Regions from separate parts of the Homo sapiens genome. Here region 2 is linked to region 1. A link means that fine-mapping ties the variant in region 1 to the expression of a gene that starts in the linked region. Tissue or cell type: esophagus muscle. Region 1 holds a variant in brackets; the other region holds the start of a gene. All regions are shown on one strand. Distances are from middle to middle.

Region 1 (7,332 bases):
CCGCTTCCAGACTCTCCTCAGATCTTAAGGGGCTCATGGGAACCGTGAAGGGGAAAATGCCCGGTCTGAGGCATAGAGACCTGTGTTATCCTGAAAACTAAAATGTGCAGGTAGTATAATTTCAGGAGAGTAATGCGATCTTCATATACACATATGACAGAAGTTTTAAACACGTAAAGTACTCAGCATATATATCTTGCTAACTTCATGATAATCCTGGGGGAAGAACTAGCAAGTTGAGCTTATTTATGACTTTGCCTGGGCTCAGCTGGGTTATAACAGATGGTTACCTTCTCTACTCCTCCTGGAGTCTTCAAAAGCCTTTATAGGCTGGTGACCACATGTGATTCATCCTCCTCTCCTCTCCTGCGTGCCCCCTACCCCCCACCCGCTGTGCCCACGCAGAGTCTCATTCACGGTTGACACCAATTGTTGGACATACTACAGCGTTCCTGCTGGGCTGGGGTAGAAGTCATGGCCTTCCTCACATGTTAAAATCTGACTTGTCACCTGCTGCTTGCCCGCTTTCAGGCCCACTGAGTGTCTGTCTGCTCTAAGTCCATGAACCGTTATGAACCTTCACACAGGGCCTGGGAGGCTGCCTTCCAGTTCTTACCTTGCTGTCTGATCGGAGTCAAGTCTCTGCCCTCTCTGAACCTGAGTTCCACAGCAAATGGGGGTGACACTTTCCAGCCCATTGCTTGGTAACACAGGGAAGACTTCCTCCAAATGTAAGAATCCATACATAAATAAAGGATGGTATTATGAAAATGGAAGAGCTCTCTTAGTACAAATAGTTTCTAAGTATTCATTTCACTTATTTAATTAAAAAAAGATAATCATTACATTTCCAAAGGCACATTACTGGATTTTAAAATACACTTTCTTCTTGCTTCTCCCAAAATATAATCTTTCCATTTCAATTAGTCTTTTATTTAAAATACTTTTCAACCTTTTTTAAAACAAAATAAAACTTAACCTGTTCCAGCAAACCAAATTATTTCATAGCTCTTTTTTAAAAAATGTGCAAACACATATTAAGCTTTCAAAACTAAGGCACATGGGTTATTATTCACTATCAAAGTTTCTAGGCTTTAACAGCTCAGTTCTGCCCAACTCCTACAAATAGTGGGTGGAATTTGGTGAAACGTTTATTGCCAACACTCAACAGAGAGCAGCTGGATCAGCTGACACAGCCACAAATATCTTGGAAGAAGAAACTTCAGGGCTGGTAAGGTATGTTTCATCTTCTGCTTCCCTAACTCCAATATCCATTGCTGGAAGCCAATTTCAATTCTGGGCAACTCATGTCAACAACAGATTACTGCGCACCTAGCAAGGCACTGTGTAGGGCTGGGCATGGTGGCTCACACCTGTAATCCCAGCATTTTGGGAGGCCGAGGCAGGTGGATCACCTGAGGTCAGGAGTTCGAGACCAGCCTGACCAATATGGTGAAACACCGTCTCTACTAAAATTACAAAAATTAGCCGGGTGTGGTGACACGTGCCTGTAGTCCCAGCTACTTTGGAGGCTGAGGCAGGAGAATTGCTTGAACCCGGGAGGCGGAGGTTGCAGCCGAGATCGTGCCACTGCACTCCAGCCTGGGCAACAGAGCAAGAATCCGTCTCAAAAAAAAAAAAAGAGTAACAAATACACAACTGCTTCTTAGAAAATAACTGGTCTTGGGTCTTCAAGTCTCCCCTCATGTGAGAGGCTGTATTGTTCTAGTAAACACAGTCATCCCTCCGTATCCAAGGGGGATTGCTTCCAGGACCTCCCTCAGATATCGAAACCCACAGATGCTCAAATCCCTGCTAAGAAATGGAGTAGTGTTTGCATATAGCCTATGCATAGCCTCCAGTATCCTTCAGGTCAACTCTAGATTACTTTTTTTTTTTTTTTTTTTTAAGACAGGCTTTCACTCCATCACCCAGGCTGGAGCGCAGAGGCGTGATCAAGGTTCACTGTAGCCTCAATCTCCCTGGTTCAGGTGATCCACCTGCCTCAGCCTCCTGGGTAGTTGGGCTTACAGGCACCCGCCACCACGCCTAGCTAATTTTTGTATTTTTTGTAGAGATGGAGTTTTGCCATGTTGCCCAGGCTGGTCTTGAACTCCTGGGCTCAAGCCATCTGCATGCCTCAGCCTCCCCTGTACCCATTCAGTACAGACATAATTTTTTCTCTTAGTATATTTGATTCGAGGTTGGTTGAATCCATGGATGTGGAACCCATGAATACAGAGAGCCAAATGTATTCACTTCTCTCCCTCTTGAGGTGGCGTGCCCTTCCCTGTCCCACTGACATGTTGTGTGCCTTCCTTGGACAATGGAGTCTTCGCCACAGGCAGAGGTTGTAAGGGATACTGCATGTCTCAGCTCTAGGCCATGGCGGCCAGTAAGTACCACAGGTAGCTGCCCTCCCTTCAGCCTGGGTCCTGGAAAAACATTTGAGGAGACCTGAACCTGAACCAACGCCCGGGGCCGAGCCTTGCCTAATCCGCAGAGCTGCCCCAGATGTCCCACAGACACACGAGAAAAAGAAATGCTGCTTGTTAAGGGCCACAGAGGTTTTTGAGGGTGCTTGTAATACGGCATCATCAGACAACAGCTGCCTACTACCTGTCATCAGCTCACTTTATACTCGGATGCCAGATCAGTCCTCCTAGGGCTGAATTCCAGCCCTCTCAATCTCCTGTTCAAGCATCGTGCTCCAGCAGCTGAGTCAAGTCCCTCTTTCCTAGATGGGCATCCAAGGGCCTCTCAGTGTGGCTGCCAGCTAATTTCTTCAGCCTTTTCTCTCATTTCTCCCCTTTACGGGAATTGGTCTAAAATGACCATCCTGAGTGCTACGACCTTGTCAAGTACTTCTTTATGATGTTAGTTATCTTTTCATAACTACGTGGAAAACTCGTTAAGGGCAGGGAACGAACCTGTGTGAAATTTCTTTGCCCTCTACGTGCACATAGCAGCCACTCCATAAGTGCTTCTGGATTCATTGTAAACACTTGCTTCACAAAGCGTTCCACAGAGATGGCTGGATTCCTCACCTGACTCTCCATGTCCAGCCCTGGGCCCTGGCACTGCCATGAAGCACTGTGGACGTCCCAGCCTGCAGTAAGCCACGGCAACATCCACTTCAGACACCCAGGGGGACGATGGCCCCACGGTCTGGGGTGTGCAGGTACTTTCCAGAGAGCTCAGTGACTAGCAAAGGGTGCAGACATGACTGGTGGCTTGGACCCGAAAGCATGGATTAGATTGTTTGATTGATTTTTAAGTTTAGTTACAGGACCTGTTGCTTAAACCACAAAGAAACGACTAAACTCCAGACACTAAGACAAAACTGACAGGCTAGCACGAAGGGGCTGGTGCCCTCAGCAGCAGCAGAACCCAGCCTGGGTACGTAGCACTCCAGAAAGCTCAGAGGAAGCATCCTCATGGCGGGTGAAGAGTAAGCAGCTCCCTGCATGCTCAGGAGCCCGGCCTTCCTGACACTTTCACACACCCCGCCAGGCTGGATGCCCTGCCTGCCCTGAACATCCCTGAGCTTCTGTCCTACCGTTCAGTACCCCAGGTAGTCTATACACTGTAACTCCTATTTAGCCTTGGCAACTCAGCATAGGGACAAACTGGGGAATCTGCGCTCTCCCAGAACCTGCACACAGCTCCCGGTGGCACTGAATGCGTTTTTTTTTTTTTTTTTTTGAAACGGAGTCTTGCTCTGTTGCCCAGGCTGGAGTGCAGTGGTGCCATCTCGGCTCACTGCAACCTCTGCCTCCCAGGTTCAAGCGATTCTCCTGCCTCAGCCTTCCTAGTAGCTGGGATTACAGGTGCTAATTTTTGGATTTTTAGTAGAGACGGGGTTTCACCATGTTGGCCAGGCTGGT[T/C]TCGAACACCTGACCTCAAGTGACTGGCCCACCTTGACCTCCCAAAGTGCTGGGATTACAGGCGTAAGCCACCATGACCAGCCTGAATGCATTTTTTTTTTTTTTTGAGACAGAATCTCGCTCTGTCCCCAGGCTGGAGTGCAGTGGCACAATCTTGGCTCACTGCAACCTCGAGCCTCCCGGGTTCAAGCAATTCTCCTGCCTAAGCCTCCCTAGTAGCTGGGATTACAGGGGTGTGCTACCATGCCCAGCCAATTTTTGTATTTTTAGTAGAGACGCGGTTTCACCATATTGGCCAGGATGGTCTTGATCTCTTGACCTTGTGATCTGCCCGCCTCGGCCTCCCAAAGTGCTGGGATTACAGGCGTGAGCCACCGCGCCCAGCCCTGAATGCATTCTTTATCTCTGCCTTCCCCAGCCAGAATGAAGACGCTGCCTACCAAGAATGGTGCATTTTAATGGTCACTTTGGAGATGTGGAAAATACAAAAATGGGCAATGAAGAAATCACTTACACACATGCACATACACACAGAAAGCATGTGCATGGGCCCTGAAGTCACTTTCTGTAACTCATCTTTGGACTTCACAGGACCTCATAATATCAAATAGTGCATGTTTCCTTGCATCGTTCTAGGTTTGAAATGTTATTGTTTGTTGTTTGTATATTCTTCTAATTACATTTCACAGCTATTTTATCTTGCCCCCCGACTCATAATTCATTAAATTTAAATAAATTTGTGGAGAGTACATGTCTTGATTTTTATTACAATTCCTAACTGATACATAGTATGCTATTTTAATGTATTTATTAGGTAACTGATAAACCTACTAAACATAAAAAAACTAGTTCTAATGTTTGTTGGTACTGTTATTATTGCTCTTGTCAGCTACAAAATATGGTGATTTTGTTTCTTCTTTTTTGATAGTTATATATTTGTGTTTATTTTCCTACATTACCACATTAATTAGAAAAGATATTGTAAAATATTAGTAATGATACTAGACATCCTAATTTGTTCCTAATTTTAATGTAAATCATGGCAGTGTTTTGCTATAAAGAAAATGTTAGCTTTTTTCCTTTTTAACATAATGTTAAAGAAATATTCTTCTGTATTAGTTTTTAATCGTATAGCAATAGTTTTATATAGCAAATTACCAGAAATGACGGACTTTCAAACAACATGAACTCATTATCTCGCGATTTTTGTGGGTCAGGAGCCCCGTGCGCTGCGGCCAGGGCAGCCTCTCCATCTGCAGTCAGGGCCTCTCCCGAGCTCCATGCTGGAGGCGGGATTCACCGCCTTCCATCCTGCTCCGAAACGGCACCCAGGCCTCCTGCGCGGCATCTCTCCAGCTCTGCTCTTGAGGGCTCTTGGAATTACACTGGGCCCCTTGGATAATCCAGGATAAACTCTCTCAAGTCAGCTGATTAGTCACCTTTTATGACATCTACAAAGTCCCTTTTGCCAAGCAACGTGACATAACCATTGGAGCAACCCGGGGGGTGTGAGGGGAAGGGGCAGTCATGGGGGCCAGAATTCTGCCTACCACACCTTCCAATCTGGATACACTGAGTTCTATAGCTACAAATGAATGTCTTGGCCAGGTGCGGTGGCTCACGCCTGTAATCCCAACACTTTGGGATGTCAAGGTGGGCCAATCACTTGAGGTCAGTAGTTCAAGACCAGCCTGGCCAACATAATGAAACCCCATCTTTACTAAAAACACAAAAATTAGCCAGGCGTGGTGGTGCACACCTGTAATCCCAGCTACTCGGGAGGCTGAGGCAGGAGAATCACTTGAATCTGGGAGGCGGAGGTTGCAGTGAGCTGCACTCCAGCCTGGGTGACAGAGCAAGACTGTCACAAAAAATACAAAACAAATGTCGCATTTTATCAAATCCCTTTTTATTATCTATTATCATGATCACATATACCTTTTATCTTTTGACCTATTGATATACTAATAGTTTTATTAACATTAAAAAATCACATTCCTGGAATACATCCTTCCATGTCATGACTAATTCTTTATTATACTGGTAGATTAAGTTTGCTATGTCTTCACGTTGGCTTGTTGTAATGTTTATAAATAAGGGTGGGGGTTTTATTCTGCATGTTATTTTTGTAAGGTTTTGGTGTTAGGGTTATACTATTTTGGTGAAATGAACTGAAAAACCATTCAACCTTTCCGAAGCTCTCAGACACTACTCAGAACATAGGAAGTAAGCTGTCTGGGCCCAGCACCTTTCTCACATGGTTCTTCATAAAACTTTTCAGTTTTTCATGGCTAGTAATCAATTCCAGTTTTCTACTCACTCCTTGGCCCATTTTCCTATACAATCATGTTTCACTGAGATTTTTCAAATCAATTGGCATAGAGTTAACACAACGGCAAAATAATATATTTCTCAATAATTATAGAAAACCATCTCACCTATATTTGTTTCATTTGAATCTGTTACTTGCACTTTGTTAATTTCTTTGTCTTACCAGACGTTAATGCCTTGGTTGGTTGTTCTCCAAAGAATTAGATTTGGCAACCTATTGGTTGCTGTTTTCTAAGTCATTGTTTTCTTATGGTTTCCCTTAAGTTTATTTGCTGCTCTTTTTCTGCCTTCTGGAGATGGATGCTTTGTTCATTTATTTGCTTCTAAGTTCAGTTTATTTTTTGTACTAGACTTTTTAAAGTATTTTATTTCATTGGCCATCCACCATTAAAGTAAACTTCCTGTTTGGGGAGAACCCCAAAATAGGTGGGAGGCAGGGCCCCATCCTCCCATCCTCATTATAGATGCTGAGTGTGGGGCAGTCGCCACCTTCGCCTGGCTGTCTGCTTGGGCGTGGAAACAAAACAGGCCAAGGGCTCCCACCCAGGTGTCTGAATCCGGAGTTGTGGTCTTTGAAGACAGTCAGAGTTTCGTCGAGAGCTGCAGCAGAGGGAACTCAGTGGTGGTGCCGCAAACGTCCTACCTGTGGTACTTGCCTCCTGCAACATCCTGCTGCAGATGCAACTGGCCGTGCGGGGCTGCCCAGCCTCCTCCACTGTTCCTGGTTTCTGAGCCTCATTCTCCAGCCTCCTTGTTGATTCTACCGGCAACCCGACAGTCTTCTGGTTCATTCCTCTTCTGCTTAGATTAACTATTTCTCATGTTTAAAATGTAGAATTCTGAATGGCATGGTTTTCTTTTGCATTGTTCTTACTGCCATTTTCTAAATATTTTACAACTGCAGTTTTGAAGTTTCTGTCACCCAAGATTTATGAAAAGCCTCTTTAAAAAGCTTCTTTACAAAGATTTATAAAAGTTTTTTAAAGTTTTTTTTAAAAGCATTACAATTAGGTATGTTTGTACATTTCTATCTTTGTGATTCATTTCTAGTTTTATTGTTTCATCAGATGACATTTTCAGTGTGATATCTGCCTTTAGAACGCTGGAAAGTGTT
Region 2 (7,332 bases), 220 kb after region 1:
CCGGCGCACACATTTATTCCTACAGTCATCAGTTAACATAACACTGACACAGAGAAAGATCCTTAACAACCTGCTAGTGAGGACTTTTGGGAACTCTTGAAAAAACACACGCAGAGATCAAGAAACGAAAATGAATTTATGATGGTTTGGTTAGAAGCTATGTTTGAATGAAGAAAATAAAAGATGTTAAGTAATAACTGGGGGGATCCCTAAGCATACAGTGGGGACTTGGGTATATACAGAAAATGAAATATTCATCATCCTCCATGGAGCACACTTGTGGCTGAAGCTCTGCAACAGAATCACAAAATTAACCCATTTTCTCCACAGTTAAAATCGCTAAAAAGAGCAAAAGTGCCAATTTGGATCTGTTCAAGATTTTTTTTAAAAAACTGTAGGAACACAGTTAATACTCTGCAACTAGAGGACCACCTGTAACTAAATTCACCATTAGAGAGATGGCATTTCTGTTAAACCACATGGCATCACGCTTCCAGTGCCAGTGTTCATCCTAACAGATAACGTAAACTCATGGGGAACCTCTATGCCCCTTCTTCCAGTTTCCAAGGTCTGTAAGGACAAGAGGCTGCTCTCAATGGGGGCCCATGGGAGCAACAGCAGCATGAGTAGAGTGTGTCTCCCTGCCACTCTGAATGCCTGTTCACACCCTTCCCCTCCCGTCCACAGGTCTCCCCACTGACTCTACCTACTAGTGTCAAACAGACACAGAACCTAAACATCAAGGGGGACCCGGGAACTGCACATACCATCGGAAATGGGGAAGAGGAGTTGTGTGTGAGAAGGACTGGGGAAGGGGAATTCGCTTAAATCAGAGATCCTTCTCATCGCCTGGTCTAACTCAGTCCTCTTAAAACTGCTAATCAGCGCACAGTGTCCAGATACAAAACGTTTCTCCTGAGAGTCAGAGGGCTTTGAGCGACAAGTATTACGTTGTCAAGAGATCATTCATTTCCAATTGAGACAGCATTTGGAAGAGCAAAAGCCAGGCACAAAATTAGAGCCTATTAATCCTAATCAGAAACAAAAGTAAATAAATTCAAAAGGTTTTAATTGAGCCTACCCAACAGGAGGAGGCGGAGACTGAAGGAGTATCAAGCCCAATAATAACCAGGATTTGGGAAGCCCAAAGAAGAGCTCCCTATAAATATATTGCTTTCTTTAAATTCTGAGGGGAAAAAAGTAACTCCACCTTTCATTGAACATAGGATACCAGAAATTACATAAGGAGTTGCATTCCAAATGTTGGATGCAAAAAAAGCAACCAAAATTGATTGGAATGTGGTTTAACTGCTTTATCTAATCACTGCTAATAAATAAGAAGACCTTTCATTAGTTGGCAGGAGGACAGTTGCTACTGGCCAATTTGATTTTCCTGAAAACGGTGAAGACTTGCATGCGCTTTTTATCCCCCCAGATATAATCCCTGAAGTCCAGACTGTTTCTGGAATCGGAAGTTGTCACGTAGTGTCATCCTCTTCCTTAACAGACCTAAGGTCTCCTTTCACATGTTCCCAAATTGTTTGTTTTGGACACCTTTTATTGCAACCTTTTTGAAAGTGAAGAGTTTAGAAACCTCATGGCAAATAAGAAATTGTTAATCCAGAGTGAGCATGTAGGAGGCTGGAGAATGCAATGATCTATCCAGGGCACACTAGGCAGCCGACACTTTGAAACCTGAAATAGCCAAGATTCCTCAATTATTCGTCGAAGTTACATGGGAGATTCAGTCAACTGAGCTTAAGAAGATGCCCTATATGTTGTCAGCAAGGGGGAAAAAGTCAGTTCCATGTATCCCTGACTTAGGAATCTATCGCACCCCACCTTCCCACGGCAGGCTACATCTGGGCTGATTTGCTGGGTCCCCAAACTCGGTAGAGAGCGCCCCAAGGATCAGGGACCGGCGGCCCCACCTGCTGGGTCCCATCCGCCACCTGGATTGGCAAGGCCTGGCCCCCCTTGCAAGTGGACCCCTTCCCTCCCTGCTCCCAGAAGCCCAGCCCAGAACGGCGTTCTTTCCGGGGGCCCAAAAGCAATCAGACCTTTAAAAGAAAAAAGAGGGAGCGCAGACTGGCATTATATAACAATTTACAGTAGATAAGACTTCTAGAAAACGAAAGCAGCCCGAGGAGGGGCGGGGGACAGGGGAGACCAGGGGAGTGCGGCGTCGGGGGAGCGGTCGCCACCACTTACTCGAAGGCGAAGAAGAGTCCGCTAGTGACCAGGATGAGGACGAGCGTCAGGTAGAAGACGCCCGTCTGCCGGGCCATCATGATCCTCCCGTTACAGAAGAACTTGTTTCTTCCCGGGAACACCTCCCATTTCCTCCGGGCCGCGATTTTCTTCTTCTTGTGGGGCGACTCCATGGGGGAGGAGCTGTGGGTGCTGATCTGGCTGTACTCGCAGTCTTTCATGGGCCCGCCGCCGCCGGGAGGCATCCACGAGGGCAGCCGGCTGGGGGCGCACACCCCCAGGAGCCCCCCGGCCGCGCGGGCCCCGCCGAGCCACGACCGCCGCCGGCCGCCCGGCCGCCCCCCGAGCCGCGGCGCCGCGGCCCCTACACGGGCTCCCGGCTCGGCGACAACTTTGCCGAGGACACCCAGGTTAACCCTCCGGGGAGCCCAACTGTCATAGCAGAATCCCCGCTCCGTGAGGGGACGGCGCTGGTCCGCAGCCCGCGGCAGCACTCCTCCGTCGCTTCCAGCCCGCGTCCCGGGGCGCGGGGCTCAGCCCGGCCGGCCCCCGGGTCGCCGAGCGCCCGCCCCCTCGCGCGGCTGCCCGCTCGGCCCCGCAGCCCCCGGCTCCCCGGCCGCGCCTCGGCTCTGGCCCGCCGACCCCCGAGCACTGCGCCCCGAGGGGACACGAGGCGGCGGCCCCGGCGCCGGCTTCCTCGGGAGCCACTTCTGCGGCGCGGCCAGGTTGGGTCCACTCCTTCCTCCGGCAGCGGATCCTCCCAGGAGAGAGCGCTGGCGACTGGGCGGCCGCGCGCGGCACCGGCAACCCCTCCCAGGGGTGGGGACAACCACGCACGTTTTTCTGTCAGGAGCCTCTCGGCGAGAGCCGGGGCGCCGCTCGCACCGCGACCCGGTGTCGCTGCGCCTGGCAGCCTAGTCGAATCCGCGGCCCCCGCGCGGGGATGCGCGGGCCGAGGGCGGCGGCGGCTCGCGGGCCGCGCGGCGAGGGCTCCCTTGCTCCCTCCTACCCGGAGGAAGCGGCCCCGGCGCGAGGAGGGCCGCGGGGACACAGCACAGACACTTGTTTGCAAGGCTCAGCCCGGCGCGCGCGCGGCGCTCCGAGTGGGTCCGCCTCCTCCGGGCCGGGTGGGCGGTGGCCTCGCGCCTCACCCGCGGCTCCTCCTCCTGCTCCTCCTCCTCCTCGCCCGCGAAGCCAGGGCACCGGCGCAGCGAGATTCCAGCCCCAGCCCCCTCGGGCGGGCGCCCTGGGGTGTGGAAGGCGCGGGGCTCCCTGTGGCATCGCCCAAGTAGGGATGGGGTCGGGCGCCCGCGGCCCCGCCGCGCAGTGCGCTCCTGGCCGACTTCAGTCCGTCTCGCGGCTTCTTCCGGGTTTATCCCGCGCAGCAGCTGCCGCCTCGGGACACGCTCATTCCCACGGCCACCGGCAAGCCACTCCTGGCGACTCCCCGGGACCTGAGGAGCCGCGGCGCGGAGGTGACCCTCCCCGGCCTGCGCCTCCCTTCTTCCTCCTCCCCAGCTGGGCGCGTGGTCGCGTCGCCCGGGGACTCTGGTGATGCCCGAGAAATGGGCTGGGGGTGCCGGGTGCCAGGATGGGGTGGGGCGGCCCTAGGCCGGCCTGACTTCGGGACCGGGCTGCGGGCGAGGGTCTCGGGGCCCGGCTCGGCCGGCTTCCGGGCCGAGAAAGAAGGGCAGAGGAAGCGGTCAGGGTCCCCTCCGGCCCCGGCCTCCCTCCCGGAGTATAAGCCCTTGGAGGCCAGGTTTTGGGTTGCTGCCGCCCAGCTCTTTCGGTCTCCACTTCTCCCCACGGACGTTTACAGCTGCTCGCTTTATTTCTCCCTCCATTCCCCCGTGGAGCCCCCTCGGCAGCGGAGGGGTCGCGTGCTTCTCCTCTCCCGCCTGCGCCTCCCCCCTTCCCACCCGACAGCCCAGGAGGAGCTGCGGGCGCGGCCCTGGGACGGCCGGAGCCTGGGGCTTCTGCTCGCTCGCGCCCTCCCAGGCGTTGCCGCGGGTCCGAGCCCCCGCAGAGGTGGGCATAGCCCCGGGGCCGCAGAAAACGAAGGCAGCTGGGCAGGGATGCTCAATTTCCCGAGCCCCACTTTCCTTTCACAGCCCACTGGGATGTGTAGTTCTTCCGCCCGCAGGCCTGCGCCGAGGAGAAGCACGACTCGGGGCCTTAGAAACTACAAGTCCCTGCATCCCCCGCGACAAGGGCAGGAGAGGCGTGGTGCTGGGCGTTCTGGGGCTAGGTGGTGGGAGATGGGAACCAACAAAGGGGGTTGTGGGGAACGGTGCCTTCTCTGTACTGGGCAGTTTGCACGTTACACATGTTCTTTGTCTAATCTTCGCCGGAACCCGGTGAGGCATTATTGTATCCAGCTTAGAGAAAGCTTAACTACTGGCCAAACATCACAAAGCTCCCAAGTAGTAGAGATGGCATCGAACCCAGAGCCCTAAGTATGTCCCTTACAAAGCGTGCCTCAGTGAGGAGTGTCGAAGGGGGATGAGATTGGCTTATCCAAGAGGGCCAGTTGGGAGGAGCTGTGGTAAGGAAAAAGTGATGGGAATAGCAATTAGAGTATGACATGCAATTACAAGGAGTTTTGAATACAAGTGAAATTTACAGGGGTCCATTCCAAAGCCGGTTAGAGTCTAGGGAGAATGGATCTTAAGCACACGATAATAATTGGGTTTTAATTATTTTAGATATTGTATGAGAGACAAGCATATTACAGGGACAATTAAGTATTTGTGGCTGGACTAGTTTTAAAAAACCAACTGGAAAGCTTCATACATTTCAAGTGAAAGCTCTCATATGCTTTCCTGTCCTTTAGCTAATGAGATCAACGGGGTATTATTCTTATTCTGTTTATTGCAAGCACCTTTTCTGTGGGTGTCCAATTAATATAATAGATCCATTGATTTGATGGCATTAAAAAAGACTCCCACTCTTATTCTCAATGAAACCGAATTTTTCTGGCATTATGGTTATGCTTTTAAAAAGTCCTTCCTTGTCTGTTAGAGATATGTACTAAAGTATCTGCCAGCGAAATAATATAAAGTCTGAAATGTGCTTTAAAACACACCAGCCCATCCACTCCCCTCCTCCCACCCACCCAGCTCCAGACATGGAGGTATAAATGAAACAATTGGAAACTGTTGAAAATAGTTGACCTTGGGTGACATGTACTTGTACTTAATTATTTATTGCTGCAAATTGCCACAAACGTAGTGGCCTTAAAACAAGACAGATTTTTCTCACAGTTTTTATGGATCAGGTGTCCAGGTACACTCAGTCCCCCACTTAGGGTCTCACGCCTGCCATCAAGGGGCTGGCCAGGCTGCGTTCACATTCACTGGAGAAGAACTGGCTTCCACTCTGACTCCGGGCACAGGCAAAATTCCTTTCCTTGCAGCAGTAGGACCGAGGGCCCTGGCTTCTTGCTGGCTGGAGACTGGAGACTGTCCTCAGCTCCAAGAGGGAACCTGCAATTCCTAGAGGTTACCTGGACTTCATTGTCACTTGGGCTTTCCGAGCACAGCCACTTATTTTGTCAGGCCTGCAAGGAGAGTCCCCAGAGTGAGTCTCCAGCAAGACAGAATTTTATATAACATAAAGCAATCCCACGGGGGCAACTTCAAATGTGAACATTCTGTTGGCCAGAAAGCATGTTTTGCACACACTCAAAGGGAGAGGAGTACACAGGGCATGAACCCTAGGGTGAGGGACACCCCGGAGTGCATCCACCACAGTGTACATGAGAGTCCATTATGCTTTTCTTACCTACCACATCTACTCATGTTTATGTTTGACATTTTCCATAATAAAAAGAAATGAATTCGTTTTAAAATGTTACCTAAAGTTTCCACAGCAAATAAGATATGCTGATATGATTTCTAAATAGCTGATACAATTGTCTGTAGTTGTCTTCCAGGGGATAACTTTTTTCTTCCCACTCCATGTGTACTAAGACCTCTGCGGTTAATTCACTTGTATGGGTTACCCTCCCCTAAGAGCGTTCACTAGAACCTGGTGTGTGATAGCTGCAGAGTTCACCTCACCAGCTACAGTTGATCTTGAACAATATGGGTTTGAACAGCGTGGATGCCCTTAGACACGGATTTTTTTCAACCAAATGCAGATGGAAAATACAGCATCCGTGGGATGGGAAATGCGAGTATTCAGAGGGCAAAGGCCCACTCTTCCTATATGCAGGTTCTGTGGAGCCTGTTTAAGGACCTGAATATGTGCAGATTCAGGTATACGCAGGTGATCCTGGAACCAATCTCCTGAGGATACTGAGGGATGACTGTAAAACCTACTGTATAAGGGATGGTAGAGTTTATTCATTTATTTTACAGTTATCTATTTCAGGGCCTAGATTGTGCTAAGTACTGTTTTAGCAGCAGTGATACAAAAAGATCCAAGATAGAAGCTTATATTTGGGGACTGGGGGAGAGGTGGAGAGAATAAACAAATAAATAAATGACTAGTAAGACAATTTCAGAGAGTAATTACAAGAACGAAAAAACAAAGCAGGGTTATGGGATGGAGAGACTGGGGTCGGGCAGAGAATCGAATGATGGGAAGGGGCAAGTACCAAGTCCTCAAGGCAGAACAACCTGGAAAATTCTAGGGGTACAAAGAAAAACCAGTCTGGCTGGAGTGGAGCGAGGGCCAGGGAGAGAGGGAAAAAGGAACAGGAATTCATTCTGTGTGCACCAGCATCAATTCTGTATGCCACACTCTGTACCCACCATCGGTGTAAGTGTTGAGGGGTCTGAAAGAAAAATCACCGTCCTTGCCCTCCAGGAATGTATAGATTCCAAACTTTAATGCTAGAGGGACGTCAGCGTATCTAGAATTAGAGACCAAAACTTGTATTTCTCAAACAAGGACACTGAAAAGTCAAAAGACCTGCTAAAAATTCCTTGAGAATGCCTCGCCAATAACAAATAATCCAAAAATGAGTCTTGAATTGAATTGAAAGAGTGCATGATCTACTTTTGCTAAATGGGGTTTAGCCTAATACTGCCTCTTTACATATTTTAAGTTTGGCCTAAAGGTTTCTCTGTACACTGAACTGTAGCCTAAATGGAAGTGTAAACAGAGTGTGATCTA

The links. PIP is the estimated chance that this variant, and not a neighbour inherited with it, causes the effect.
Region 2: it holds the start of ZDHHC14, and the variant in region 1 is fine-mapped to the expression of ZDHHC14 in esophagus muscle (GTEx, PIP 0.92).

What each region holds. Positions count from the first base shown.
Region 1 is chr6:157,598,863-157,606,194 of GRCh38, reverse strand. The region is part of intron 3 of ZDHHC14 (zDHHC palmitoyltransferase 14); the gene reads right to left. Among named protein-coding and RNA genes, the nearest start is that of MIR3692, 73 kb to the right of the region's middle. The variant T/C (reference allele first, on the strand shown) is at 3,888.
Region 2 is chr6:157,377,146-157,384,477 of GRCh38, reverse strand. It overlaps ZDHHC14 (zDHHC palmitoyltransferase 14), which reads right to left and starts at 3,288. Exons shown (of 9, transcript NM_024630.3): 1 at 2,212-3,288. The coding sequence starts at 2,456. LOC124901446 reads left to right here and starts at 3,387. Exons shown (of 1, transcript XM_047419644.1): 1 at 3,387-5,164. The coding sequence starts at 3,777. The coding sequence ends at 4,667. RefSeq lists enhancers at 2,231-2,370, 3,129-3,740, 4,352-4,964 and silencers at 2,461-2,510, 3,021-3,910, 4,071-4,150.